3 separate regions of the Homo sapiens genome follow, and regions 1 and 2 are each linked to region 3. Evidence: fine-mapped expression QTL. A gene starts in region 3. Each other region holds a variant in brackets. All regions are shown on one strand. Distances are between the middles of the regions. Region 1 overlaps WASF3 (WASP family member 3). Region 2 overlaps WASF3 (WASP family member 3). Region 3 holds the start of WASF3 (WASP family member 3).

The links.
Region 1: its variant is fine-mapped to the expression of WASF3 in blood mononuclear cells (TOPMed, PIP 0.95).
Region 2: its variant is fine-mapped to the expression of WASF3 in macrophages after interferon gamma (Alasoo 2018, PIP 0.91).

What each region holds. Positions count from the first base shown.
Region 1 is chr13:26,613,485-26,623,562 of GRCh38, reverse strand. All of the region lies in intron 2 of WASF3 (WASP family member 3), which reads right to left. Among named protein-coding and RNA genes, the nearest start is that of WASF3, 61 kb to the right of the region's middle. The variant T/C (reference allele first, on the strand shown) is at 4,571.
Region 2 is chr13:26,575,979-26,586,056 of GRCh38, reverse strand. All of the region lies in intron 1 of WASF3 (WASP family member 3), which reads right to left. It also overlaps the pseudogene RPS3AP44. Among named protein-coding and RNA genes, the nearest start is that of WASF3, 23 kb to the right of the region's middle. The variant AG/G (reference allele first, on the strand shown) is at 5,430.
Region 3 is chr13:26,551,805-26,561,882 of GRCh38, reverse strand. WASF3 (WASP family member 3) reads right to left here and starts at 4,200. Exons shown (of 10, transcript NM_006646.6): 1 at 4,064-4,200. RefSeq lists silencers at 4,097-4,306, 4,567-4,626.

The DNA of each region.
Region 1 (10,078 bases), 62 kb before region 3:
ACTTTGCTTTGCATCAGTGAAAGATTATGAGCCTAAGAGTCTGTCCTGCTTTTGCTATTAATTACCCTTCGTCCCAGAAGCAGAGGATCTTGCTGGTCACAGGGCAGGAAAGAGGGTTTCCTAAACCTCTGCCAGAAATAGATCTTTGCTGAGTCCTATGGGCTAGAGGTTTCATTGCCCTCCTGGGAACTCTGTCATAGGAGAGAAGGCTGTGGGGAAGCAGGTGTTACATCATGCCTGTCTCCCAGTGGCAGCTGAGATTACCTCCCGCAGAGCAGCACGATCAAAAGAGGTTCTGTCTAGTCTCCAGGCTTGCTCATAAGCTTTCTTAAGAGTACCCAGTGGAGGGCTGTAGAAAACAGCTTATGAGTAAGTGTAACCTTCCCCTTGTATCTGGGGTACCTGGTTATCCTAAACTGATGCATTAGCCCATACTCAACCTTAAGAATGCATTACAATTTTTGCTGAATTCTTCTTATGCACTTCTATGATGGTTACCTGTTCCCCCTGTGCTCTGCTAAATGTGAAACAGTTCAAGTGTCCTGTCTACTCTCAGATGGGTTTGTCACCCTTTGGGATTTAAGAAAAGTTATTGCTTTCTAGATAATCTGGCCTTTTTTGTTTCTTAAAATAGAAGCAATGTTCTCTTATATCCTAATTGGAAGAGAAACTCCACCTTCACAGTAAGAACAAGGGTAACATATCAGCTTCTTCTTTTGTTAAGACATTGAGCTGATAACTATTTTCACAAAAAAAGAAAGAAACAGTAAACAGATTTTTTTTTTTTTGAGACGGAGTCTCGCTTTGTCTCCCAAGCTGCAGTGCACTGGTGCGATCTTGGCTCACTGCAACCTCCATCTCCCGGGTTCAAGTGATTCTTCTTCCTCAGTTTCCCGAGTAGCTGGGATTACAAGCACCCACCACCACGTCCAGCTAAGTAAACTGATATTCTCAATGAGTGAACATATGAGTACACTCTTAAGAATTTATGTGTGCAGACCCCAAAGAGAGCAGACTATTCTGGAAAGAAAAGAACACCACCACTACTCTATTAACATGGATAACAGCTTTCATGCATAGAATACACTGTAATGGGGCAAATAAACTGAAGCCCACAACTGTGGTCATTCTCCACCGCAGTAAGGGTTCATGGGATGTAGAGTAACATGTTAACTGCATTAAGTCTTTATTACATATTTTAAAACGATATTACTGGTAGGTAGAGGTAGTTGACTATACAAAATTAACTGAATAGATTTTGTAGTGGATTTCTTTCTCCACTATGCAGCCATTAAAGACTGACCTTTGAGCTTTCAGAACAACCAGTTTGCAGAACCTGACAGTGTTAATGATTCTCTCTTCTATGTGCTGGTAACCTTTGCTCTGATTGCTGCATGCCAGGTAATTAGAGCACAGTGCATGATAGCACTAAAACATGTGGCACAGACTATATTATACACACAAAACTAAATGTGTGTATACTGCAGATGTTGGGCTTTTTAACCATGTTTTACTTGTATGTATGAGTTTTGCCCTCGGAATGAAAGTGACCCAAGCAAAAGTAGCCAGGGCCCATAGAGTAGAGTGACACAATGCTGGCCCAAGCCCTTCCTCTGACCTTTCCCCTCAGTGTGGCCTTCTCATTTTGAAGGACAAGGGCTATGTCTGCCTGCCTCCACTTTACAGCACTCTGCTTGGAGTTAAGTGCCTACTGACAACTCCCAAAAGATACTCACTAACATAACATTCCCACCGCCAAAGGAAGGGCCTCAGCTTCCTAAACTCCTCACTTCGCACACTGCCTTCTAGAGCCACACTGCTTCTTTTTAAAGCTTTATTAAAAGTTGTGATTTAGGGGGAGGGAAGGAAGAAAGACCACATAAAATTCAATCAACCTCATTTCACTGGGACAAATGTTCACACTTTGCTCTTTGAAATGTGGTCTGTATGTTTCCACAGGATGGGAGACAGAGAGGTACAGTGAAGCAGCAAAGGACTAGGAATTGGGGAACTGGGGTTCTAGTCCAAGTTCTGCCACTAACACTACACGACTCTGTGCAAGTTTCTTCATCAGGGTGGGCCTCAGTTTCTTCATCAGGGTGGGCCTCAGTTTCTTCTCCTGCAGAACAGATTTGCTCTCTTGGGTTCCCTCCAGCTCTGGCATACTTTCCTTTTCAGTTAGACATTCAGCTGGCTTTCAGAAACTACCATATCAGATTCACCTACTCTCCAAACATTCAGTGTGTTTTCATGATGCTTTAGCTAGTGGAAATGCAAAAACTGAACAAACGAAAATAAAACAAACCCCATTCCTCAAGATGCTAATGGTTTAGTGGCAGAGACAGGCATATAAATAAAGTTACAACACAGTGTGATAAGCACTACATTAAAGGTATGTCTCATTCCTGGAAATTAAAACGCAACTAGAAATACTCCATTCTCAGTGGGGAATGGGAGATGACACGGCATCACAGACCCCCCAGCATCCTGCTCAGCATCGGGAAGCTATTCAACAGACGTTTGAGGATGGAAGAGTGAAGCTCTCACTCAAGGCTTAGAAGCAGCATTCCACCATTTTAAAACGTCACTTAGCTTTTGCTATACAGCCTCAACAACTAAATAATAAGTCTCCCAGAAAAAGGCAACTTTGTGTCTATGGAATAATGTAATGAAAAACCTTGTCAAGTACCTATTTTTAGAGGACATTCTGGGACACAGTTTGTCTTTCAAGGGCCACAAAATGGCATATAAAGATCCTCCAGGTAGAAGCTAATATGGTTCTAACTGAAAAGGTAGGGATTTGAAGTCTAGGTCAAGATTTCTCTCCACCAGGGTTTTCACCATTAGCTCCTGTCTTGCAGTTTCTCTGTTGTGGGAAGAAATCTCGGAGTAAAAGTGAAGAACAACGTATCATGGGTGGGGATACAGAAGTGGTGTGGGAGCCTGTGAAGATCAAGCCTTTGGTCTCCCTGCCTTTCTCTTCTAGCCATGGACAGGGTAAAGGGAGCTCTGAAAAAAGCTGCTGTTCTACAACTTGCCACGCTCTACATATCTATGCTTCAATTAATCTTTATGCTCTGTGTTATGTTCATTTAATTCAGACTTTTTAAAGTTAAATAAATCACTAAATTCCTATTAGATAAAAAATATTTTTAAAATATACCCATATTTTATTTCTAAGTCCTTTTAGACCATGGTGTTCATTTAACTAGATACTCAGAACATGTGGGATTCAAGAATACATTTAATATTTGAACCTACATCTGTTTTATAGTCCTTTATTGTGCATAAAAATTTATTCTGATGCACATTATTAACCCAGGAACCTCCGAGATGCTTTGACCAGGAACTATTTTTCTTCCCTGTTTTGATCAGCCAGACAAAATCAGCTACTTAATAAAAAAAATTTTAAGATAAATGGAACCTTGGAGATCTAGCATAACTTTATTTTACAATCAAAGATTAAGACAAAGAGACCCAAAATCTCCTACATCCTGGAGTAGACACTAGAATCTCGGTCTCTCACTTCCACTGGTGCTCTGCCCACCACATCCCCATTGTAAACGCTTCCTACAGGTCCCAATTATAAATATGCCAGTAAGCCAAGGCTACTTCATTTCTGTGTCTTACCAGGATAAAAAGGCAGCCAAGGAGGGGAAAGTTGTCTGCTTTGGTATTCAAGTAATCCTTGACTTCTAATATGATGCTTCTATTCATTCTCTTTCCCTCTATCCCAGCAGGTCCCTCCCCATTCTTAACCCTCTAAGCACCTGATCATTTGTCATTAAGAGTCAGCTCTGACCAAAAAGGAAGGAGGTGGTTTACATTTCCAAGGTTCCTTTTATATCAGATTTTATTATCTTATTAAACAGATGGTTTTGTCTGGTCCTTCAACTCCTGACACTGCCTTGTTGCTGATTGCATGCATAAGCTTCAGACCCCCTATCTTACTCTGTTTTGTATTTTTGATATACATGACTTTTTATAACATGACTAACCTTTGGTTAACCACTGAGTTGACCCAGATATTTGTATCCACCCCACTTCCCCAGCCAAGGATGTGATCCATCCGCATCTCTGCAGACCATGATTCAGTACGACATCTGGTAAGTCAAATTCCATTTGATGTCTGCCAGGAAGCTGTGTGCATAAGACTAGAATATATACCCAGCCTCCAAGGAGACTTACAGAAATGCTGCTGTGGGTAAACTAAGGAAAACAGCAGTTTAAGGTGACATTTCAGACAAGGAAGAACAACAATCTCCATTTCCTTGATTTGGGATTAAATGTAATCTACTTTCCATTTAAGGCTGCAGCATATGCTAAGCATATTTCTCCATTAAAATGAGACACTTATAAGCAGGTTGTGTATGGCATGTATGTGCATAACCTTAGCTCATTCATAGGAAATCCTTTCAAAAATTATATAATTTGAAATGGAAGATTATAGAAATAGAATATAATAAACAGAGCACCTAGACTAGGCTTCTCCTTTGTTTCAAACCCACAGAAATGATGAAAAAGATGTACATTTAAAATATGTGCAACAATACTACAGGACTACAAATGA[T/C]AGATAACCTCCAAAGTTGAAAGGCAACGGGATGAGATTAAAGGAAGAAACCACAAGCCAAAAATATGACAGGAAGGACTGTGGCCACGAGATGTGTGGTTGGAGAACCACAATGAAAAGATCTTGGCAATTTACACCAGAGAAATACAAATGGCAGCCAACCATCAAATTGTCCTTTGAAAGAATTATATCTAATAAAACTAGGAATATGCATACTATGGACCCTAGCATTTCCATCTCTTATTCTGAGAAACATTCTCACTTGTGCACAGAATTCATGTACAAGAATGTTCACAGCAGCACTGTTTGACATAGAGATAAACTGGAAATGACTACCAATAGGGGAAAGGCAGCTGTTAAAAGAAACAAGATAAATATATATATGGAGTGTCCTCCAAAACATAGCAGTGAATGAAAAATACAAAGTTCATAATTACAGTATGCCATTTAGTAAAAAGTACTATGTAGTCCTACATGTATGAAAGAGACGGGGGGGCGGAGGTGGGGGAGACGGTGGGGAGAGAGAGAGAGCGAGAGAGTGTGTGTCAGAGAAGGAAATGTCTCAAATTCATAATAATGAATTTATTATTCTAAGGGAGGAGGAACAGAGCTGAGACTCAAAAGGTACTTTAATTGCAAATGTGTTGCAAGTTTTTAAAAGACGTATATATTCAGGTGTTATCTGCATGATCAATATTTTGATTTCGTACAAACAACTAGAAGATACTGGATATATAAATAACAAACCATTACAGGAAAAAATTGTAATAAAGTCAGCAATGGACAAGAAAGTATTAATTTTTTTAACAAAAAGGAGGCACTAATAGTGACTATGGCCTTCCAAATAATCACAGTAAGTGTTAATGGGTGAACTCACTATTAATGGCTAAGACTTCATATTCGTCTGTTTTCACACTGCTAAAAAGATACTCCCAAGACTGGGTAATTTAGAAGGGAAAGAGGTTTAATTGAATCACAGTTTCACGTGGCTGGGGAGGCCTCAGGAAACTTACCAACATGGCGGAGGGCAAAGGGGAAGCAAGGCACCTTCTTCACAAGGCAGCCGGAGGGAGAATGAATGCAGGAGGAACTACCAAACACTTAAAAAATCATCAGATCTCATGAGAATTCACTATCACAAGAACATCATGGGGGAGACTGCCCCCATGATTCAATTACCTCCACCTGGTCTCTCCCTTGACACGTAGGGATTATGGGGACTACAACTCAACATGAGATTTTGGGTGGGAACACAGCCAAACCACTTATAGAATGTGCCATGCACTGTCAAGAATTTTACATATATTAGCTCATTTAATTCTTATAAAATGAGATAGAAACTATTAATATTTCCATTGTATAGGGAAGAAACAGGCACTAATATTTAAGTAAACTTGACAGACACCACACAGCCAGTTTATGCAGTGCCTGAATTCAACCCCAGGCAGCCTGGACTCAGTCCATGTCCTTACCACTCACCAAACAGCCTCCACTGAACAAAGCAGCAACACACTGAGTTGTTTGGGTTTTGTAAGATAAATATTCAAGAATACATCTAAAATGAAATAACTAGGAGTGATAAAAATAAAGAGATTAAAAATATACACCAGGCAAATGCTAACAACAAAAGGGAGTCAGGCTCTAAGACACAAGAGAAACTCAAGGTGAACGCAACAAAAACAGATGGAGGGGAAGACACTTATCATATTCAATTGGTAAAAAAAAAACACTAAAAATGACAATTATGAACTTTTATTATCCTTTTGTAGAAGACCCAACATACTTTTCTCAGAAACCAACAAAGACCAAGATTTGAATAATACAATTAACAAGTGTTAATTGATAGTTTTTAAAAATGTTATACATAGATGTGAGAATGCATATTTAAAAAAGAAAACACGGAAAAGTTGTAAGAAAAAAAGCTATGAATTAGGTCACACAAAAAAGTTAACTGCAATCACACAGAAAATTACAATCACACAGTAAGCACAATACAATTCAATCAGAAATGAACATGTAAAAATCAAGGGATGTTGGTGAATTGTCGCCAGCATTTTCATCATTGAATCTGAATCTGGCCCTGTTCTGGCTTCTGACCTTGTAGTACTTCAGGTGAGGCCTTTGACTACACCCCAGGGACAACGAGTCAATACTGATGACAATTGGAATGGCAGATCTCCAACCTCCAGAAATAAAGAGCTGACCATCCCAGCCATGCAAACATATTCACTAATTAGGGGTCTTCTGTCCTGCACAGCTATTGACTCATGTACAGCCCCCCAAAAAGAGAATACAAACTAAGTGCCCTGCCAGAAAATGGAAGAAAAGGAAGATGACAAAGAGTAACTACTTTTATGGGAGTTGGGGAAAGTGCAAAAAATAAAACCAAAAAATAATCCCATATTGGCTCCCAAAAATTTCATTCTGGGGTAAAAAGGAAAAAAAATGCTATTAAAATGAATAAAACTACAAATCATATATCTGATAAAGATCTGATACAGAATATATAAAGAATTCTTGAAAATCTATAATAAAGTACCCAATTTCTTAAAATGGGCACAAGATTTGAACAGACACTTCACTAAAGAAGTTATGCAGATGGCAAGCAAGCACATGAAAAATGCTCAACAGCATTAGTCATTAAGGAGAGGCAAATTAAAACCGCAGGAGATATGACTGCACACTGATGAGAATGGCTAAACTTAAAAAGACTGTTCATACAGAGTGCTTATGAGAACATGGATGAACTGGAACTATCATCCACTGCTCAAGAGAAACAAAATAATCTTTGGAAAATGGTTTGCAAGTTTCTTAAAAAGTTAAACATACACTTATCACACGATCCAGCCATTCTACTCCTAGATATTTACCCAAAATAAATAAAAGCATGTGCCCACATAAAGACTTGTATATGAATGTTCATGCAGCTTTATTTGTAACAGCCAAAAACTAGAAACAATCCAAGTGTCCATTAGCAGGTGAATGGACAAACAAACTGCATTACATCCATACAGTGAGGTACTATTCAATGATAACATGGAATGAACTACTGATACATGCAACAACAAGAGATGAATCTCTATGCTGAATGAAAGCCAGACGAAAATACTACATACTGTATTATTCCATTTACATAACATTCTAGGAAATATAAACTTATCTATAGGGACAGAAAGCAGAGCAGCCGTTATGTGAGGGTAGGAGGGAAACAAAAGGGAAAAATGACCAAGGGCCATGAGGAAACAACGGTCACCAGTTCAACTACATTGATGGTATCATGGGTGTATACATATTTCAAATAACTTATCAAATTATACATTTTAAATAAGCATAGTTTACTGTATGTCAATTATTCCACAATAAAGCAGTTTAAAAATGAATCTGTGGGCTGGGCACAGTGGCTCACACTTGTAATCCCAGCACTTCGGGAGGCAGAGGCAGGGGGATCACAAGGTCAGGAGATCGAGACCATCCTGGCCAACATGGTGAAACCCTGTCTCTATTAAAAATACAAAAATTAGCTGGACATGGTGGCACATGCCTGTAACCCCAGCTACTCGGGAGGCTGAGGCAGGAGAATCGCTTGAACCAGGGAGTCAGAGGTTGCAGTGAGCCGAGATTATACCACTGCCTGCCAGCCTGGTGACAGAGCGAGACTCCGTCTCAAAAAAAAATCAAAACAAAAACAAAAACCAAAAAAAACAAATCTGTGGCAACAGATAATCTGAGTATGACAAAGTAGGAGATCACTGAACATTTATTTAATATGTACATTCTAACATGAAGGTCAAGTAAAAATAAGTCGACTGTTAGCCACACACAGGACTAAATATCATGATAAAAGAAATGAGACAGGAAAGACACATTTAGCAACCAGATAGACATAGCTCCAAAACGGTACTTAAAAAAAGGCCACCTCTGATGGGCATAATACAAACACCAACGGAAATGCCTAAGAAAAAGCACTCCTCCTAGAGAATTCCCTCATCCAACAGAATCTGCCTCACCAAGCTAATCAGAGTGTGCCACCTACAACAACAGTCTGAACACAGACAGCGCTTCTACAAAAAGCCTGGAAATGCAGCACAGCAGCAAAACAAGCAGATGGCGTGGCAAGCAGAAGCCCCGAGTTCTTCAAGAGCTGAGACCTCCATAAGCCTCAAGTCCTTATTCTAAATATGAAAGCAGTAATATCTGCCTGGTTATCTCAAAAGGCTGTGGTGAGATGACACACCTGAAAGCCCCCCAAAAACTATAAAGTGGAACACAAATACTAGACAGTATCCGTGTTAAAAAATAAATGCTTGCCTGACAAAAAAATTTAACTATCTCCCCTTTTCATATAAATTGGATAGGAAGTGAAAGAAACCATTTATCAGAACTACAATCAGCCTGTAACCCATCATGACATACAGGAAAAGCCCAAAAGCTATTTAACTTTTATTTTCTAATATAAGCATTTAACACTATAAATTTCCCCTTAAAGTAGTGCTTTAGGTGCATCGCATATATTTTGATACGTTACGCTTTCCTTTTCATTCAATTCAAAGTATTTTGCCTTGTAAGCTCCTCTTTAACCATGGATTTTCAGGCTGTGATCATTAATTTCAAAATATTTTGGAATTTCTTGGGTATGTGATACTGATTTCTAGCTTAATTAAACTTGGTCAGAGAACACAGATACATTCCTGAAAAATTACCTGTAAAGTGAAAGTATGGAAATCAAGTTCAATTTTCCTATGGTAAATTAATATGTAATGATATGCCCAAGGTCAAGGCAAGCTAGGATTAGAGATCAATCTTCCAGCTTCTAATTCTGGTATAATAGCCTTTCTTCTACCTTATGTTCTCTTTCAATATCATCTTAAAACCAAAAGACGTGTTATTCTCTCCCTATCCTTCCAAAAGAAAAAAGAAAGAAAGAAAAGGAAAATTCCATATACATCCTCTCATTTGATTTTTACAGTTTCATAAATCAGGCAAGACAGATGATAGTATTCTGCATATGAGGAAAGTGAAGCTCAAAGAAATAACTTGCCCTACTAGTCTGCTATGTCTCATTGCTCCTCAATTACCCCTTAAAATTAGAGTAAGACAGGTCACTGAAATCCATAAATAATTCAAAAACCTCATTTTAGCCACTATCACGATCACCACCACCTCAGTTCAGAGTAAATTATTGTAAAACTGACTAGGTTTGCTTTTGGTTTTTTGAGGTTTTCTTGAGATGGAGTCTCACTCTGTCGCCAGGCTGGAGTGCAGTGGCACGATCTCGGCTCACTGCAAGCTCCGCCTTCTGGGTTCACACCATTCTCGGGCCTCAGCCTCCCAAGCAGCTGGAATTACAGGCACATGCCACCACACCCGACTAATTGTTGTGTGTTTTTAGTAGAGATGGGCTTTCACTGTGTTAGCCAGGATGGTCGCGATCTCCTGACCTCATGATCCACCCACCTCGGCCTCCCAAAATGCTGGGATTACAGGCATGAGCCACCGTGTCCGGCCAAC
Region 2 (10,078 bases), 24 kb before region 3:
AACCCAGGGTTCTGTGACACCCAAGTACAGCACTCTATTCCATGCAATCCCAAATCACTGGAAAGGAAGCTTTTAATACAGTAAAAATCAAGTCATCTAACAGAATCCATGATGATAGCCTTAAACCTTTCTTTCCTAGGCCTATGAGGTAAGTTTTCTACAGCACCATCCTCAGCTATTACCTCCACTCACATTAGAAACTGTCAGCCACACAGCAAGGCAAGGGCTTTTATTATGCATTTGGGGGGTTTATAGTTTAATTTCAGCAGAAGATAGAGCAAAGCAATACAAGTCAAAAGGTTTTTCTAGGTAAGACCATTATATGGTTTTTCTAGGTAAGACCATTATATGGTCTTACCATCAACATGCAGGTTCAGCAGTGAACACTTATCAAATTTATAACATCAACAGAGATTCCTGAGCCCCTACTATATGAAAGGCATTATGCCAAACCTGAGATGAAGAACAGTCTTCTGCCTTCCAGAGGCTTACAATCTAACTTAGTCAAAGAGACCATGAGGTAGGGACATCTGCTTACCAACTAGCAGTAACACAGAATTATACTTCAGTCTTCAAATCTCTCCATATGACTGAGTATAGTAAAATTATAGTTATTTAACTTATCATTATTAAGGAAAGCACAGCTAACCATATGATTTTTCTCAAAGCAAGTGTGTAGGCATACCTAAGTGATTCAACCCAAAACCTGAAAGCACTAACGTAACAGCATATCAGCTCAGTGAGGGACTCCATCCACAAGATAATTAATGTAAACAGCTGCTGTTTACATTTGGATCTTTAGTTCTATACCATCTGGATTTCCATCATTTTTATTTCCCTTTATCCATAGCTGGTATTTCTCCAAGTTCTTGTCAATTTGTTCTTCCTTTTTGACACAAAATATTATTTATTACAACTATAAATTGGCTTTCTTCATCTCAGTCCACTTTTTTTTTTTTTACATTTTTCTTTCTTTTTGCATTCCACAGTATTGCTTGGGAAAATGATATTATTTATGGCATGGTGAAAGCTGAGTCAGGCAGGGATCTGCCACCTCACTATTTTCCTTCCAGATGATGGAATGCTGGCTGTATTCTTCCACTCCCTTAACTATTTAGTTAGCATGAGTTATCAGAACTATCAGCAGAGTAACAACAGCTTTCATATTTTAATTTACAAAGAAGACTTTGAAACACACAATAAGGACTTTCTGTAAGGTCAATCTATAGGGCAATACTGACTTTGCAAGAAATTCCAAAACTGCTTGTCACGTATATGCCTTCAACACACAACCACGAGCAACTAAAATTTCTGAATAATTATCTCACATCCTTTCTTTGCTGCATGTTTCCTAGATAACTGAACATAAAACTGAGGAATGCTTTACAAATTCCTTATTTTAACTTACAGAAATAATTAAACTCAAGACAAATCATCTTTTACCTCGTAATTACAAAGAAATGACTGAAATTACAAGTCAACTCCAATAAGCCATCCTTAATAAATTTCTATAATACTAGTAATTCCGCTGGTTAACGACCAGAACTCTCAATAAAGTGCAGTGCGTTTACCAATACAGATTAACAGAGACCATATAGTCTTCATTTCAAATCCTAGAACTAGTTTCCACAAAAATTGTGTTCACTGCATAGCACTGGAAATTAAGGTCACCTTTTTACTTTACAAATAAGCACCTTAGAGAAGAAGTCTTAGTATTTCCCAGGAATTAAAAAGACACTCTTTCACATTTGCCACAGTCAGGAATTTTCATAACCTTGAGATGGTTCATCTCTGTTCCAGCAGAAACCACTAGTCATCCAGCAAAAGCACCAAGAAAAGGAAAATGTTCACCATTCTGTTAATTTACTGGTCCCTTGCAACTAAGTGATTAATCTATGATGAGAGGGAAGAGAGAAAGAGGTACCTGGAAGGAAGAGTCTTTGTTAGATGCTTGTTTGATCTCCATAATCCTGCAAAACCAATTGCGTATCTTTTTCCCCTCCAGGGAGGTGGGGGAGGTACCACTTAGAAGTTAGGGGGTTAAGTAAACATTACAGGAAGTCACAGGTCCAATGCACTGAGCCCAAACACACTTCACTGAATTGAGTTTTCAGAACCTTTTTAAGTGGATCACATCTGTGGTAAGCCATTTCAGCTTCTGCACTGCAAACCTTTTTGGGCTACTTGAGTGGCAACCACACTTCTGACTCCTGTTACTATCTGCCGCTGCTGTAGCTATTTGAAGAGACTGAAACAGGCTTTAGGTAGCCTCCTGATCACAAAGCAAACTCCAACAAAGCTAGAGTGGCTTCAAAAGATGGTCGAAGCTAAAAGAAGTGGGAAAAGGATGTTCTAGAAATGAAATACAGAGGGTAAAGTACAAACACCATAGCAGAGTGTGCTCAGGGTCATTCTTCTGAAAAATGGTTCAAAGAAATAACAAGTAATATAATCAAATTCATAATTTAAAAAAATTTTCAATGAAATAAGGAATTTTCAATGAAAGACACTACCTAGCAGAAAATAACTCCTACTTGGGCTTAAGGAGCCTTCGACTCTTAGCTTCACCCCCACTTCTGCCTACTCTAATTATGAACTACTCTGCATCTTTAAGTATTTCCATTTTGAGTAAAAACAAAATAATAAACACTATAGGAGAAGGAGCCCTAGACTAGAATCAGGATTTCTTGAACCAGCTTTACTGTTCACTTGCCATTTGTGACTATAAGAACCTTTCCGTTTCTTAACCATTACGGAAAATAATTGTTTTTTCTGTCCTTGCTTGCTCCCTTTGGAACTTGTCCCCATGTGACCAGTGTCATCTGAATAATAAGCCACCTTATGGTGTTGTATACATCAAATGAGATCACATAACTAAAGACACTTAACCCATAAATCATTATGCAAACATGTACTCTTATCAAAAGTGATAGATGCTATCCACAGTAACTGTCCAAACTGCTTTACCATGGCTATTGCTATCTTTCCACTAAGACCCTAGGCTTCAAATTACCACTTTAGCATTAATTTCTTTCTGCCCCCATTTTAAGCATCCATAGAGGTGCCTGTCATTATCTTTCTTATTGACTAATTATTCTCTCAAGGTATCTATCCTATTAGAATATATGTTAATAGCTGGAAAAAGAGACCTACATTGTTTTTGCCCTCTCTTCCAAGGTATGGTCTCAGAACACACATACAGATCTGAAGGTTTCTTAGGGATTTTCTCTCTATTGCTGCTTTCTTTACTCTGCCAGTTACTGGGAAATTTTCTATTCTCGGTACAGTACTAAGCACTTTATTATTTACATTCTCTTACTTAAGTATACTCTTTAAGTACAACACTGTGAGGTAGGCTTTTTTTTTTTTTTTTTTTTTTTGAGACGGAGTCTCACTCGGTCACCCAGGCTAGAGTGTAGTGGTATGATCTCGGCTCACTGCAACCTCCACCTCCCGGGTTCAAGCAATTCTCCTGCCTCAGCCTCCCGAGTAACTGGGACTACAGGTGCACACCACCACACCTAGCTAATTTTTTGTATTTTAGTAGAGACAGGGTTTTCACTGTGTTGCCCAGGCTGTTCTCGAACTCCTGAGCTCAGGCAATCCGCCCACCTCGGCCTCCCAAAGTGCTAGGATTACAGGTGTGAGCCACCGTGCCCGGCCCGGCTTTCTTTTTTAGATTAGGAAATCAAGGATCACAGAAGTTAAGAAATGTCCCCGAATCACACAGCTAATAAACAACAGAGTCAAGATTTGAACACAAATCAGTCTGGCCCCAAAGCCCCTGCTCCTGACCTGTCCCATCAGGTCTTAGAGGCAACAGAGCATCCAGTCCAGAGCCTGAAACCTACACAAGGGTGTAGGTATAGTCAGGAACCATCCGTATGTAATTGCATTTATGTATAACCTACTTTGTTCAGAAAGCAAGATAACATTTATTGGAAGTGAAAAAGAAGTATCAAATGAGTTAGAAATCAGACTCATGCAAAGACTCATCCTTTTAAATCCTATACACTGGCTTACAGTGAACCATAAATTTGGTTCAAGAACTTCTAAAGAGGAAGCTCATCGATTATAGAATTTACTGTCTATAAACCACAAATCTATCAAATACTCAAGGAATGTTCCTTCATTCCTGACTCTAAAACCTGAAAATAATTTCAGCAAACATAGTTAAGTCCATACCTGGTAACATTCTATGCCAAAGCAAAGGCTGAAGAATCACTTTATTTTCCTCTGTATTTGATACTCCAAATGATGCCTTCTATTCTGATCATATCAAAGCCTAGTTTATAGCAAATAACTGTCAAGGAAAGACTCTCTAGTAGGCGCTAATTTTTTAAAAAAGCCAAGAGACTCTGATAGCTTTCCACTCATACTTATTTGGGATCCCTTCCCCTTAAAAGCAGTGGTTTTGTAACTTTTTTTTTTAAAGCAGAACCTTTCTTAAAATAAAACTTTAATCAAAACACTAAACAACTAAAAGGGAGTTGCTCTGATTGGAACAAAAGTGAAAGTTTTCCCACTGATTTCTGTGGGGAAATAGATCAAAATGCCTTGCTCAACTCAAACTTTTCTGGATTTCTATTCATTCAACTGTTAAAAAAAAAAAAAATTGGCTGGCCTAGGTTAACTCCTCAGATTACTACTTCAGAAATTCTGTTAACTTAAATTTAAATGAAATTTGCAAAATCTTCTGAGGATAGTCAGATTAATCAAATTCTATTCAACTTAGGAAAAGACACCACATTCCATCCATTCACATATGGTTTCCTCATTTTATCACAACCGATACTTTCAAAATAATCTTAAAAAAAAGAAATTTGACCAGGTATAGTGGCTCACACCTATAATCCCAGCATTTTGGGAGGCCAAGACAGGCAGATCACTTGAGCTCAAGAGTTCAAGACCAGCCTGGGCAACATGGCAAAACCCCATCTCTTCTAAAAATACAAAAAATTAGCCAGGCATGGTGGTACATGCCTGTAATCCCAGCTACTCAGGAGGCTGAGGTGGGGGGATCAACTGATCCCAGAAGTCAAGCTTGCAGTGAGCCAAGATTGTACCACTGCACCCCAGCTTGGGTGACAGGAGTGTGACCTTGCCTTAAAAAAAAAAAAAAAAGAAATTTATGCTGGGTGCAGTGGCTCACGCCTGTAATCCCAACACTTTGGGAGGCCGAGCTGGGCAGATCACCTGAGGTCGGGAGCTCGAGACCAACCTGACCAACATGGAGAAACTCCATCTCTACTAAAAATATAAAATTAGCCGGGTGTGGTGGCACACGCCTGTAATCCCAGCTACTCGGGAGGCTGAGGCAGAAGAATCGCTTGAACCCGGGAGGCGGAGGTTGAGGTGAGCCGAGATCGTGCCATCGCACTCCAGTCTGAGCAACAAGAGCAAAAACTCTGTCTCAAAAAAAAAAAAAA[AG/G]AAAGAAAAAAGAAATTTCAAAACTACCAGAAATAATTTGACCTGAGAATTAGGCAGCCCCCAAAATAAAACCAAAATATCAACAAGCAACAAAAAATAACATATGAAATCCAATACTTCAGGAATAATATTTGAATGCTAATTGGACCTACAAAAGAAATATTAATCTAATGCTTGTCGAGTTTTAGACAAAGCCCATGGAAAGTTTAGCACCATTCATTCAGGTGTTTCTGAAAAACAACTGAACATCTTGAGAGAAGCAGAAAACTGTATGTGTTTTAAGTTATATTATCCTACAGCACTTCTGACAAAAGAAAACCACAAAAGCCAACTTTTGGACGTATTCATATTAATAAGATTCTATCCTAATATTCTAAAAGGTAAAAGTTGGAGATTTTTTTAATGAAAGATAATGGAAAGCAAAAAAATGCACAGTAAGAATTGTCTTAATTACTGGAAATGCAGGCACCTCTAATTTTCAATATCTAAGGCAGGGGTGTCCAATCTTTTGGCTTCCCTGGGCCACACTGGAAGAAGAATTGTCTTGGGCCACACATAAAATACACTAACACTAACACTAAAGACAGCTAATGAGCTAAAAATAAGTAAATAATAAATAAATCACAAAAAAATCTTGTAATGTTCTAAGAAAATTTACAAATTTGTGTTGGGCTGCATTCAAAGCCATTCTGGGCCACATGCAGCCCATGGGCCATAGGTTGGACAAGCTTGATTTAAGGTTTCAGAAATACAATCATCCTAGAAAGCATCTTCAGCATGATTCAGTTTTGCTTTCTCTGAGCTCATTTATTCATTTCCCTTGCCAGTTCATTCATTTCTGATGACCAAGCATAATCAGTGCTCACACCAAACACCAGGAGCGCCATTTCCTGGTTTTAAAAAAAGGGTAAACACAAGGGTCTATATCATGCTGAACACTGGGTGAGGGGGTCCAGGGGGCTGTTACAGAGAGAATCATGTTGTTTATTTTTTCTCTTTCAGGAATTCACTGAAACAAACAAAAAACAAAATAGTAAACTAGGCAAAGTGACAATGTAGATGAGATACCATTATACCTGCAAAACAACCCAAAAAGTAAATGTCTTTTCAGTAAAAGAATGCCACTACTTTCAACCTTACTTCCTATCCTTGGCACTTCAGCTTAACATGTGTCTAGAACCAGACTACCCACCTATATATTTCATGGACTATTAAAATATTTGAATGTATGTGTCTGCTATCCAAAATTAACTAATGGTAAGCAAAAAATAATAATTACTATAATTAATTTGTTAATAATAGTCATCACTATCTTTCCCCTTCTCTAGGCTTGGGTATTTACTTTTGTATTTTAATCTAGTTTCTCTCTCCTTAAGGCAAGAGGACCACTTGAAGCCAGGGGTTCAAGACCAGCCTCAGCAGCATAGTGAGACCCCATCTTTAAAAAAAAACTTAAAAAATTCGCTGGTCCTAGTGGCACACACCAGTAGTCCAAGCTACTCAGGAGGCTGAGGTGGGAGGCTCACCTGAGCCCGGAGTTTGGGGTTACAGTGAGCTATGATTGCACCACTGCTCTCCAGCCTGTGCAACAGAGCAAGACCCTGACCCACAAAAAAAAAAAAAAAAAAAAAAAGGAAATGTATCCCAAGAATATAAGGTTAGCTTAATCTCCAAAAATCAATATAATAACTACTATCATAAAGGACAAAATCACATGATCATCTCAATAGAAAAAGCATTTCCCAAAATCCAATATCCATTCATGACTGTTGATTTGTTAAAGAAAAGATGTTAAATGATATCAAGAACAATACAGTATGTGTGTCTCAATGGAGACACAATGAGGAAGCTAAGGCAAAATACATGAAACGAAAGAAGTTTATTACTCATAGGTCCCAGAGAGGTTAGAGTGCCAAACAGAGACAGACAGGAGGTCCTGAGACAGGAGAGGGAAGGAGCAGGAGGGAGAGGGAGAAAGAAGAACTGTGGAACTACACCTTTAAGGGACATTATTCCTTATGCTTTCCTTCTTGTGAATTGGTTAAAGAAAACAAATGTGAATGGGAACTTATTCACATGACTTCTGAGGCTGACCATTAGGTTTTACTGTGATCGGCAGCTCATGGTGTGTTGCATTTTGGGTCAGTGAGATGAGGCACAAGTAGGCCATATTGCAAACAACTGCAGGGAGGGGAAGTTCTAACTAGGCCAAAGGTGACAGGGCATGACTGAATTACGAACAATTTATGTTAGGCCTAAAATGAATGCTAAGGTAGCAACTTTATTAAACTTATCACAGTGATTAAAAACTCCTAGACTTAGAAGAAAAATTTTTCAACCTGGTAAGTCGTCTACAAGAAAACAACTAAAATCACACTTAATGTTGAAGGACTGAATGCTTTCCCCCTGAAATCAGGAACAAGGGAGGAATATCTAATCTTATAATTTCTACGCAATATTCTAAAGGAAGTTCTATCCAGTGCAATAAGGCAGGAGGAAAGAAAAGAAGGGGGGAAAGGAGGAGAAAGTATCTAGATTGGAAAAGAGGTAAAATTGTCTTGCTAGTCAATTTCATGATTACCACATTTTATGATCCTATACATAAAAAAAAGTCTAAGGAATCCACAATAAAACTACTAGAATTAAAAGACAAATTCAACAAAGTCACATGATACAAATTAATATAAAGAAATCAACTGTAGTGACTACAAAGAGGAAACCTAAGGGAGTTCCTCTGTGCTGATGGAACAGTTCTGTAACTTGATGTGGTAGTGATTACATGAACCTATACACATGATTAAATTGCACAGAACACACAACTGAGTGCATGTATAAACTAGTGAAATCTGAATAAGGTCTGCAGATTGTACCAATGTCAATTTCCTGGTTTTGATTTTTTTTTTTCCACAAATAGGACTTTTTACTTGCCATTATTATAAGTCTGAACTTTAAACAGATTCTTGGACTGGTGGTTCATATCCATCAGCTCATTCAACTTTAGCACCTGTCTTGCTCCCAGTGGCTTTTCCAGAACTACTGCCTTCACCATGAAGCTCCATGAGTTTTCCCAATTCAAACTTGGGCTTCTTCAGCATTTTTACTTTTCTAACGAAGACATCATGGAGAGGATAAATGGATTGGCAAGTCTTTTCTATGTCTTTTCCAATGCTGTCTGGAATCAATTTATTGACCACTTCTTTCAAGTCATTTTTCTGCACCTCCCGGGTCTTGATTTCCATCATATTCTTCCGGATTTGGCGGACCTGTTGGTGCTGAGCATAAAAGGTTTTCCATATCGGATTGTTACATTGTTTTTAGGAAAACCAACACAGAACAGACAAAGCAAGTAACCATCGGTAGTCCTGACATCAACATGAGCTTTAATCACTGTCTGCCATTTTTTGACCATGGAACACATTTTGTCACAGGTAAGATCCATGCCAAGGAAGTTAGGAAGTTTTTGCCCTGAACATCTTCAGTAATCAGCTTGAATTTTCTAAATGCAATCTCATCTTTCTGCAAATCAGCAAGACTCACTTCAAACACATGACCCTTGAGGCCATCAGATGCAATTTTGTTTCCTTGGGTCCTGGTGACTAGCATCTTTCCAATATTCCTTATATTGAACACAGAAGGTGCTTTCACATCATACCACTCTTTCTTAGAAAATGGATCAACCACTTTCTTCTTGGCTCCCTTTTTGCCTCCTTTCGTAAGGCGTTTGTTCTTGCCAACAGCCATGGTGCTGCTCAGAGAGCCAAAAGGGCGGTTTTGATATTATACTATAGTTACGTAGGATGTTACCACTGGAGGAAGCTGGGTAAAGAATACATAGAACCTCTGTGAACTATTTTTGCATTTCCAATGAGTCTATTATTGTTCCACAATAAAGTTATTTTTAAAGTTAACTGTAATTCTACATACTAACAACAAACTATGAAAAATGAATATGATCTTCAGATGACTCTTCTCTGAAAACTTGGGAACCACTGACTTAGACCTTTTTTGAGATAGTAAGTACATAAGTTACATAAGCACATGATGTACCACACTCCAAACTATATCTCAGTGAAGTTCCTAAACATTACAATCTCCTGGCTATCATTTAAAATATTCAAAGCCCACGTACCACTTCAGACCACTGCAATTTCTGAGGCTAGGTCAAAGGCCTCAGTACTTCTGAAATTCCCCACGTAAACCACTACTGTATGATGCAACAATTCTCAAATTTATGTTCCAGGACCTCTTACAGTTCAAGACCCCAAAGAAGAGTAAAAATAGAAAAGGAAAAAAAAAGAAAGTAATGAAACAGGAGTGGCTTGAACCCAGGAAAGAAACAAAAGAAAGAAAAAGTCATAGTAGAGAAGGAATTAAGATGTCCAAGGGAGAATAATAGATTCAAATGAAAATTTTACAAAGGGCATTGAGGAAAAGTAGAAAAACAACCATAAGAAAGTGAAATTTAAAAAGAAGTATAAAGGGTCAAAGTTGAAGTGAATAAAACAAATTAGGCAAAGAGGGTCAAATATTTATATAATTAGAAATACATATACCTCCAAGATACATATACATCAAACTCTGGAAGAAGATATTCAAAACACTAAAACAGAATATTTAAAATAATACTCTAAAAAAACTTCCTGAAAAT
Region 3 (10,078 bases):
CTCAAACCTTGGAGTCAGACTGGACAATGGCCTCCCTCATTTCCTTTTCTACACTGATTTTCACGTGCTACAGCAACCACCAAAAATCCTTCTTTACAAACATGAGGTCATCGAATGGAATGGAGTGCAATCTAATCTAGACATTTTTAACTATCTTGAGCTAGTAGTTTCCACAGGCTTGAAGAGACGGAACTATGTGTTTTCCTCAACAATGTGAAACATCCCCCAGTCTCCCTGTTTGCTGTAGCACCTTAGCTGATAGTTTGGGAAACTCTCAAACTGTTTGAGACAGTCTGGGACAGCTAATAACTCTCACATGCGTCTCTCTAATCCAGACAACTCCTGATTATCTGGATCCCTAGTGCAGCCAACTGAACACACTGTCCCCTCAGCACCTGAAACTTAACCCAGCCAAGTGTGACCCATAATCTTTTCCCCAAAATGGATGCTGCTCTGTCCCCACCTAAGGACAGTGCCATCACCCAACCACCCAGCCAGAGCTGGACACTGCCCTGAACTCCTCCCTGCCCCAACTCCCCCCACCACATACACACACACGGCCAATGACCAAATCCCAGCAATTCTACCTCCTCAAATTTCCCTGCTTCAAGCCTTCCCTCTTCTAATCCATTCTCCAAAGGGCAAATTTGACCGTGTCCCTCTTTTGCTTACAATTCTTCAACCATTTCCTGTTGCCCACAGAGGTCTCCGAACTCCACACAACAGTAATCACAAGACCCCACAAGGCACAGTCCCTCCTTACTTCTCCTCCCTCACTTCTTGCCACTTCCCTGCCCTTGCCCACAACCACCCCCACTGGACTGAACTCCTGGTGTTTGTGGTTGCTCCAGTGCATCACCTCCCTGACCATCTCTCTGTACACCCTCTCCTCAACCCAGACTTCGACCAATTCCTTCTCATGGTGCTTCCTCTGGGAGGCTTTCCTGTCTCTCTGAACGTCCCTAAGCTTGGGTTTATGGTCCTCCTCTGAGCTCTTGTTGCTGGCCCCTTTCAGATCCCATATCAAACAATACATTGTAACCAACGGTTAAAACTCTTTGAGACTGAACTGCACAGCAAGCTCATCGGGGGCTGACAGAGGTATCTGTCTTGTTTATCTCTGTATCCCCGGCACATATTAAAACTCTGAAGTGTACTGAATGAATAAAGCAAATGAATGAATGGATTAGGTCATGCATGAGGCTCCTACATCCCTCACTGATTACTGACTCTATCATGGTACTTATCACACTGCACTGTAATTGCTTGTCCTGGTAGACTATGAACATCTTGAAAGCGTCTGTCTCTTATTTTTGCAACCCTAGTGATTAAAATAGTACCTGGTACCTAGTAGGCATTCATGAAATGGTTTTTTTAACATACAGGGTTATATATTTCATCTACAGTATTAAATGGAAAAAATCCAGAAGGATACACCCTATATTATGGTTACCTCTGAAGAAAGAAATAGGAATAGGACAACAATAAGACGGGAAAAAGAAAACTTAAGACTTTTTACCTCTATAAATCTCTGTGTTGATATTGTTTATTTTATAATGTACATCATTTATGTATTACTGGCATAAAATATTTCTGTATTACCAGCATAAAGTCAAGCCACAGGTAAAGAACCAGCCCTGAAGAAGAATGTGTGGGGCTGTCAGAAGCATTTAGTTCCACATGCCCAAGAGCAAAGCCAAAAAAAGCCTGACTTGAAAGAAACAGGGCCCTTAAAACGGACTGAGAAGAGAAGTTGAGAGATTCGGCCGGGAGCGGTGGCTCACGCCTGTAATCCCAGCATTTTGGGAGGCCGAGGTGGGCGGATCAACCTGAGGTCAGGAGTTCGAGACCAATCTGTCCAACATGGTGAAACTGCATCTCTACTAAAAGTACAAAAATTAGCCGGGCATGGTGGCGGGCGCCTGTACTCCCAGCTACTCGGGAGTCTGAGGCAGGAGAATCGCTTGAACCCAGGAGGCGGAGGTTGCAGTGAGCCGAGATCACACCACTGCACTCCAGTCTGGGAGACAAGAGCAAGACTCCGTCTCAAAAAAAAAAAAAAAAAAAAAAAAAAGAAAGAAAGAAAGAAAGAAAAGAAAAGAAAAAGAGATTCAAGGTCTACAGCAATGGAGAGCCACCCAAAGTGAAAAACAATCTGGGAGTACTCTTCAAAGAAAGTCCTTGGAATTCCAAAGACGATCACTAGTACTAGCCCGTGAGTAGGGACAATTCATTTAATACTTGCATTATAACGCAATTGTTTTAATCAAAACATCCCAATAACCAAAAGGTTACCTGCCATACATAGGTTTCTATGGGAACCGTAACGTGTGACTACAAAGACACACTGACAAGAGATAGGAGGTTACAATGTTGGCATGACCACTTAGCAAAGTGTGTTCCACCTTTGTTTTCGTAATTGTTGAAGATAGTGAAGCACATCATTGACTATTAGGTTGTAAATTTTAAAGCAAACAGATTTTTTAAAAACAAATGCTATTAAGCAACTTCATGTCAGCCAACTGGAAATGCAAGAACAATTTCTATATGTACATAGTTCTAGAATAAGCACAGGTTGGAAGGTAAATATAATAGTTGACCAAACTTTCCAATATTTAAACATGTGAAAAGACACAGCTTTTGTGAATACCAACTAAGAAAATCTTTCAAGATGAAGAAAAATGAGTACTACACTGAAGTCATTAGAACCCTGGGAGAAGGGAGCTGGAGAGGACACAATGAGAATGCCTTTGGGAAAGGTCAAACCCAGCTTTCGTTTGTTTAACCTCTCAAGCAGATAAAAGAACTAGCTTTAAAGAACCACTGCATTGTTTAACTGCTAGAAAAGGAGAGTTGGGTAAAGCACATATAAAAAGAAGCAATAGAATTTGCCCTAGAGACAATAGAAAGATTAGTCAATTACAATACTTTGAACTTAGTTTTGATAGAGTCGCATTTTAAGCTTTAGATAAACCTAATTTTTAAGATGCAAAATATTTCAAATAGCTATCCTCTCCCCCTTATAAAAAGTAGACTCTGAATCTTAAAATACCATGTTCTGCTATGCATTTAATTTGAAGAACTGCGAAAAGTAGTCTTTTTAATTTTCAGTTTTTGAAAACTCGAGACTGTTGCTGGAAGTAAACCGCTAATTTAAAAATTAACCTTAAAATGAGAAAGAATTCCTATGATGCTCCCATTGATCCCTAAGCCCATCACATAGTTTCTGAATAATTAAGAACTCTCGTCTCCACCAGGGAACTCTCCCTTGCAGAGGGGCCAAATCAAGAAGCAATCGCCATTGCACGTCAGCACCACAAACTGAGAGGAAGCTTCTGCCCTCGCTAAAGCCCAGGCGCGCGGGTAAAGACCCCCGGGGATGATACCCCGCGCGCCGCGGCTCCGTGCGCGCGGTCCCCCGCACTCGCGGGCCGCCCCACCTCCTCCCCTGCACTCCAAGAGTCCGGCCTGGTCTCCGAGGCCGGGAGCCACGCGGCACCGCAGCCTCGAGGGAGAGGACGCCCGCAACCAACACGCACGCGGGCACCAAGAGGGCACAGGCCAGGGCGGCGAGGGCCGAATGGGGCCGGGGGGCACGCGGAGCTGGACCAGAACCAGCGAGGGCGCGCAGACACTGAACGGATGCGAAGGTCCCGGACGCGGAGCGGCCCGGGGCGTCGTGCGTGGGGCGCGAGCGGAGGCCCGGGCGCCACTTACGGCGGGGAGGGCGGGTGGCTGTCCCGAGTCCAGGGAGCGCGCACCGGACGGCAAAGGGCCGGAGGCCCGGAGGCGCGGGAGAGAAGGGCCGCCTGGCCGCGCCGTGACGGCGAGAAGCCCCTGCCAGCGCGGGAGCCGGCCGGGAGAATGCGGCCGGGCTGCAGGGATAGGCGCGAGGCGGCGCCGCAGCCCGCAGTGGGCCCCGCCGCCCGGCCGGAGCGCGCGGCGATGCAGCAACTTCAGTTCGCCGTGGGGCCGCCCCTCCCCCGACAGCCGCCCGGCCCGGAGCCGAGAGGGCCACAGCAGCCTACAGCGGAGAGCCGGGGCGACCGCAGCCCTCACTCACCGGTCCGCGGTCCCGCCGCCGGCGCCGGGGCTGCGCTCTGAGCTCCATGGTCCCGCCGCGCCGCGGCCGCCCGGCGCACCCGCCTCGCACCACACCGCACGCAGCGGCGCGAGCGACGCCGCCTCCGGCCCGTCCACGGCCGCGGCCACGCCCCCTCCCGGCGGGGGGGCTCGGCCGGAGCAGGAGGGGGGCTCAGTGCCGGCTCCACCAACCAGGGCCAACTCACGGGGCCGCTTCACCAGGATTGGCGAGTGCCTCGGCCAATAGGGAGCCGGCGAGCGCGCTGAGCGACGGTGCCGAGGGGCGGGGGATTGCGGAGGCGGTGGCTCTCACCCTTGGTCCTCCGCCCCCAGCTCGGGATGAGGCTTAGGCAGCGTCCTTTCCAGCGAGGAGAGGTGGGGATACTTCGGGCCAAGAGACCCTTGTATCACCTCTGATTGCTAGGTGCCCATTACAGTACCTTTGAGTTTGCGCTTATATCCTAATCCTCCCTGGGTGTTGAGGGCTCCTGCACAGAGGTCCTCTACCTGTAAGGTGTCAGACGTCCTCCAGGGCTGAGGCTTCAGGCAACCCTGAGAGGACTGTAGCCCTGTTCATGGGTTGGTTTTATGCCCTGCTCAAATTCGTTAGCATTCTTAAAATCTTCCCATCTCCTTCAACACAGATTCTTCTGTTTTTATCACCCTATAACCAATCTCTCTCCACCCTAGATGTGAGGAAATCCACAATACTTATTAAAACTAAGATATCCCTGAAACTGCCAGCTAAGCCCTGCCACAGTGGAACATAGCCACGTGCGACCAGATGACTGAGGCATAAACAAACTTAAGAAAAAGAAAGGAGGAAAGGAAAGGAAGAGAAGAAAAGATAGAAAAGCCAAGATAGAAAAGCTAGGTCACAAAGGAAAGGGGTTTAAAAACATCTAATAGAAATGTTACCTTTATTTTAATTTGCATGCCTTTATTCTTTTTATTTACCAATAGGATCACTAAATTGAAAAACTTTTAGGAAAAAATTTTAAATTCTAATGAATAGTTCAAGAAACACTAATTCAAGTTGGTTTGCTCTTTTCTTTACAGATGTGTAATAATGATCAACATCTAGCTAGAGACAACTAAAAGTTGGAAAAAATGAATAGCAGTTAATAATTTCACCAAAGTTTGCAACACCAGAAATGCAGTAGAAAAATCATGCAGCCCTCTTCATAAAATGTCTAATCTATTAACCTGCATTACTTCCAAAGGAGGGATTTTAAAAGCTCTTTTTAAAGATGACGTATATTCAGTTTCCATAAAGTGCCATCATTTTAAAAAATTGCTGGTAATTAACAAGGTAAACAGGATTTTGGTGAATAATTACAGTGACCCAGTATTTTAAATATTGATACTAGAGTGACAAATGTCTGCTGAATTGAAAGCTAAATTGGCATTCAAATTAAAATGACTTTCCTTCATTTCATCTTCACTTACCCAGGGGAATGGCTTCCATGTCTATGTTTAGGTCATTAATTTAGAACTCAAAAATATGAAAGTATAGATACCCAGAGTGTTTTCAAGGTTGCTAATCATATTTCCCTGGCTGCTTCCCTCTTCGGTGACCCCAGCCTTATAAACCGCTGCTACACTTAGTTTGCACTCACTGTTAGCCCTTAAACACATCATCCCAAAGTGTTCAGGTTTGTTTCATATAGGTCAGTCTTACCTCTCTAATTAGATCATCAGTTCCATGAGGATAAGGCCCTTATTTTACAGTCCTCTTTCCTCCTTTTATAATGCCTAGTACAGTGCTGAGCATGTGGTAAATATGATTCTATTCCTAGTGTTGTGGTTCATGGTACAAATAAATTATTTCAAATATGGTCTTGTGTGAACCAGTCCTTTAAATAAAAACTGCTTAGAGCAGTCTTGTTAGAGGATTAGAGCCCACCGCTAATAAGTGCCTCATCCTTAATAAAATGTTGCTGCATCAGGGAGTGAATTGGTGACCTGTAACAGAATCTTGACTAAAAGTGCCTACTAAATAGGAGTGCTTCTTATCACAAAACCAGAAACCTGGAGACAGCCACAGGGCTTCTGTAATATCTCTTCTATGGTGTCGTTGTGTCTCAGGCTCTTTCTAGCCATTGTCTCTGCTATCCTTGTCATGTGATCTCTGTCTTCATCCTCACAGGATGCCTGCTTCCCTTGTAAGCATTGCATCACATTGAGGAAAATGGTAGGGGGATGGGTAAAGGGCAAAAGATCAAAGAGGTGCATGCCCAGTTGGGTCTGCATCTTCCTGGGAAGCTTTACCCAGCACCTTCTGCTTGCATTTTATTGGCCAGCCACATGTCACATGACCACCTTTAGCTGCAAAGGAGTCTGAAATGCTAAGTATTTAAAGTTGGGGCATTGGCTGGAGGAATATTAGAGTTTTGTTAGTAATGGAAAAGAGGAATGCAGACCTTGGGTATGAGAGTGGCAGTACCTGATGTAGTTGCTGAATAAATGAATTCATGATTGAGCCCTCACTCTATTTATTCATAAGACCCACTTTTTTAAAAAGGCCACTCAGGTGTCAATTAAAAAACAATCCAATTTTCAAGTGAGCAAAAGATCTAAACAGACACCTCCCTAAAGTGGAGTTGACAATACACAGATGGCAAATAAACATGCTCAATATCATGTGTCATTAAGGAATTGCAAATTAAAACAAAAATGAAATACTATGACATACCTACTAGGATGGCTAAAATAAAAAAGCTAACGGCAACAACAACAAAAAACCTAAGGATACCAAATACTGGCAAGGATACAAAACAACAGGAATGCCCATCCATTGCCGATGGGAATGCAAAATGGTACGACCACTTTGGAAGACAGTCTGGCAGTTTCTCACAAAGCTAAGCATAGTCTCACAATTCAGTCCAGCCATCACACTCCTAGGTATTTACCCAATTGTGCTGAAAACATGCCCACACAAAAACTTGTACCCGAATGTTTATTCATAATCACGAGACCCTGGAAGAATCAAAGATGTCCCTCACAAGGTGAATGAATAAACAAATTGCAGTACATCCATACAATTGAATGTTATTTCATGATAAAAAGAAATGAGCTATCAAGCCATACAAAGACATGGAGGAAACTTAAATGCATATAGCTAAATGAGAAAAGTCAGTCTGAGAAGGCTACAGACTGTATGATTCTAAGTATATTCATTCTGGAAAAGGCAGTAGGAACCATAGTTAACAGAATAAAAAGAAAGTTTCGTTTCTTAAAATTTTTTAAGCAAGGTCACCTTTGCTGTATTTATGGACCTTTATTGCAGTCACAAATTCTATTGTCCTTCAACTATTGGTAAATCTTTTTTAAAAGTTCTTTATCATTGTACCTTTTAAGAAGTTTTTGGGCTATGTGCAGTGGCTCACACCTGTAATCCCAGCACTTTCGGAGGCCAAGGCAGGAGACTTGCTTGAGGTCAGGAATTTGAGACCAGCCTGGGCAATATAGTGAGATTCCCATCTTTGCAAAAACTAAAAGAATTAGCCAAGAGTGGTGGCATATGCCTGTAGTCCCAGCCACTCAGAAGGAGGCTAAGGCAGGAGTGTCGCTTCAGCCTAGGAGTTGGAGGCTGCAGTGAGCTGTGCTCACACCATTGCAATCCAGCCTGTGTGACAGAGTAAGACTCTGTCAAAGAAAGAAAGAAAGAAAGAAAGAAAGAAAGAAAGAAAGAAAGAAAGAAGGAAGGAAGGAAGGAAGGAAGGAAGGAAGGAAGGAAGGAAGGAAGGAAGGAAGGAAAGAAAGAGAAAGAAGGAAGGAAGGGAAGGAAAGGAAAGGAAAAGAAAAGAAAAGAAAAAGTTTTGGGGAGGTTTTCCTGACTTTTTATATTAAAATTTTTCCAATGTAAAGAAAAATTGAAAGAATGGTAGAAGGAACACCCATATACCTTTATCCAATTACACAAGGCCACATTTGCTCCATCAGTCTCTCTCTCTGTCTCTCCATAATTTTTTTTTTTTTTTGAGATGGAGTCTCGCTCTGTCGCCCAGGCTGGAGTGCAGTGGCGTGATCTCGGCTCACTGCAAGCTCCGCCTCCTGGGTTCACACCATTCTCCTGCCTCAGCCTCCCAAGTAGCTGGGACTACAGGCGCCCGCCACCACAACTGGCTAATTTTTTGTATTTTTATTAGAGACGGCGTTTCACTGTGTTAGCCAGGATGGTCTCGATCTCCTGACCTCATGATCCGCCCGCCTCGGCCTCCCAAAGTGCTAGGATTACAGGCGTGAGCCACCGTGCCCGGCCTCTCCATTATTTTTTAGCTGAACCACTTGTAGACAAATTGCAAACACCAAGATACTCTACCTTAAATACTTCAGCATATATCTCCAAAATAAAAATGTCTGGATCATTCTAGTGTACAAGCAGAGCCGTGCATAGCCTATAAAATGGAACCGTGGAGACTCGATACCTGTAACTCCTCCAGACTCCGTTACTACCCCCTCCCAACTTTTTCTCTGTAAATATTTGACCAACCTGGTATACGATGCTGGTATTATACTGAAGTACAGTAAAATAAAATCTAGCAGCAGGGAAACTGGTGACAAGGTATTGTGGTCAAGAGAATACTGGTGATGCAAGTGACTGTCAGTGTTCTGTGAAATCCCGTGCATGCAGCGTGTAGTGAAGCCAGTCCGGGGCCCACAGGGCAGTGAGATGCAGCTGTCTAGCATTACGATAACTGAACAGCTCTCAAGCATATTCCTAATAAGAATATGCTTCACAACTATTTTTAAAACCTCTTGAATTGTGCCATCTTTGTTCTTTGCCTGGTCAAAATCTTGGATATATTTCTAAAGTCAAAATGTAGGCAGCTTAGGCATCCTCTTAATTTGAATCTGATAGTGATGACACAGTGACTTTCTCAAGACACTTAATAAATTAGGTATTCCCTCAGTGATTTGCTTAATTCTCTTTTGTCATCACTAAGTCTTTAGTGGAAAAACAATTGTCATTCTTTTTACTTAATAACATGTCATCTTACATAAAAATTACAAACTGCTTTGCATTAGGAACTGAGTTCAATCTCACTTTGCGGAAGAGAAAGAACAAAGAGTGGTTACTAATTAAAAGAATATAATTAGAATATGTAAGAAATCAAATTTTAAAAGCATAATAACTGTCATTTTTGACATGCTCATTTGTACTTGTTCTCAGAATGAAGTAAAATAATGACTACAAATACCTCAGTTCTCAAGAATTAATTTAGCTCCATATATAAATCTTTATAAACATACTTCACTTACCCGAGCTTTCTTCTGAAGGATAGTATTTATTTTCATCTTGACATAGAGTGAAATAAATACATACATATCCATATCTACGTCTCAAAGAATAAAATATTTGCTGGAAACATGGCTATATCTTAAATTTTAATATTAACCCAATTATCTCATCAGAGCAAGGCAGTATATTGATATTAACTTTATTTTGAGGTGAGGAAAATTATGAGAAGGTAAAAATAACAAACATTTGTTGAGAATGCTCTATGTGCAGTATGCTGTATTTGTTGTATTTAACCTTCATAACATCTATTGGATATGTGGTCTGTTGCCCATTTTATAGATAAGGCCCAGAGAAATTGTCTTTTTCCCCCAAGGTAACCCAGCCAAGACTCACTGATATTTTCACAGACAAGCTGTTTTTCCAATGAACATGGAGAGCCCTAGAAGTTGCTATTCTTGCTAAGTGAAACAGCAGAGTAATGTGTGCACAATATTCTGAGAAGCACATGGCCAATACTTCCCTCAAATCTATCCCTGCCTCTCCTTTCCCATTCCCACAACCCAAGCTGAGTTCACCACCATCCCTTTTTGTGCTGTGACAATATTTCTAACACATTTCCCTTGGTTTTTCCTTCACTGTGTCTTCACGCTATTTTATGAGCAATTTTTAAAATGTAGATCTGATAGCATCTCTATGCTGCTCAAAAACCGTCAGAGTCTCCCACTGTCTACAGGATAAGTCAAATAAAGC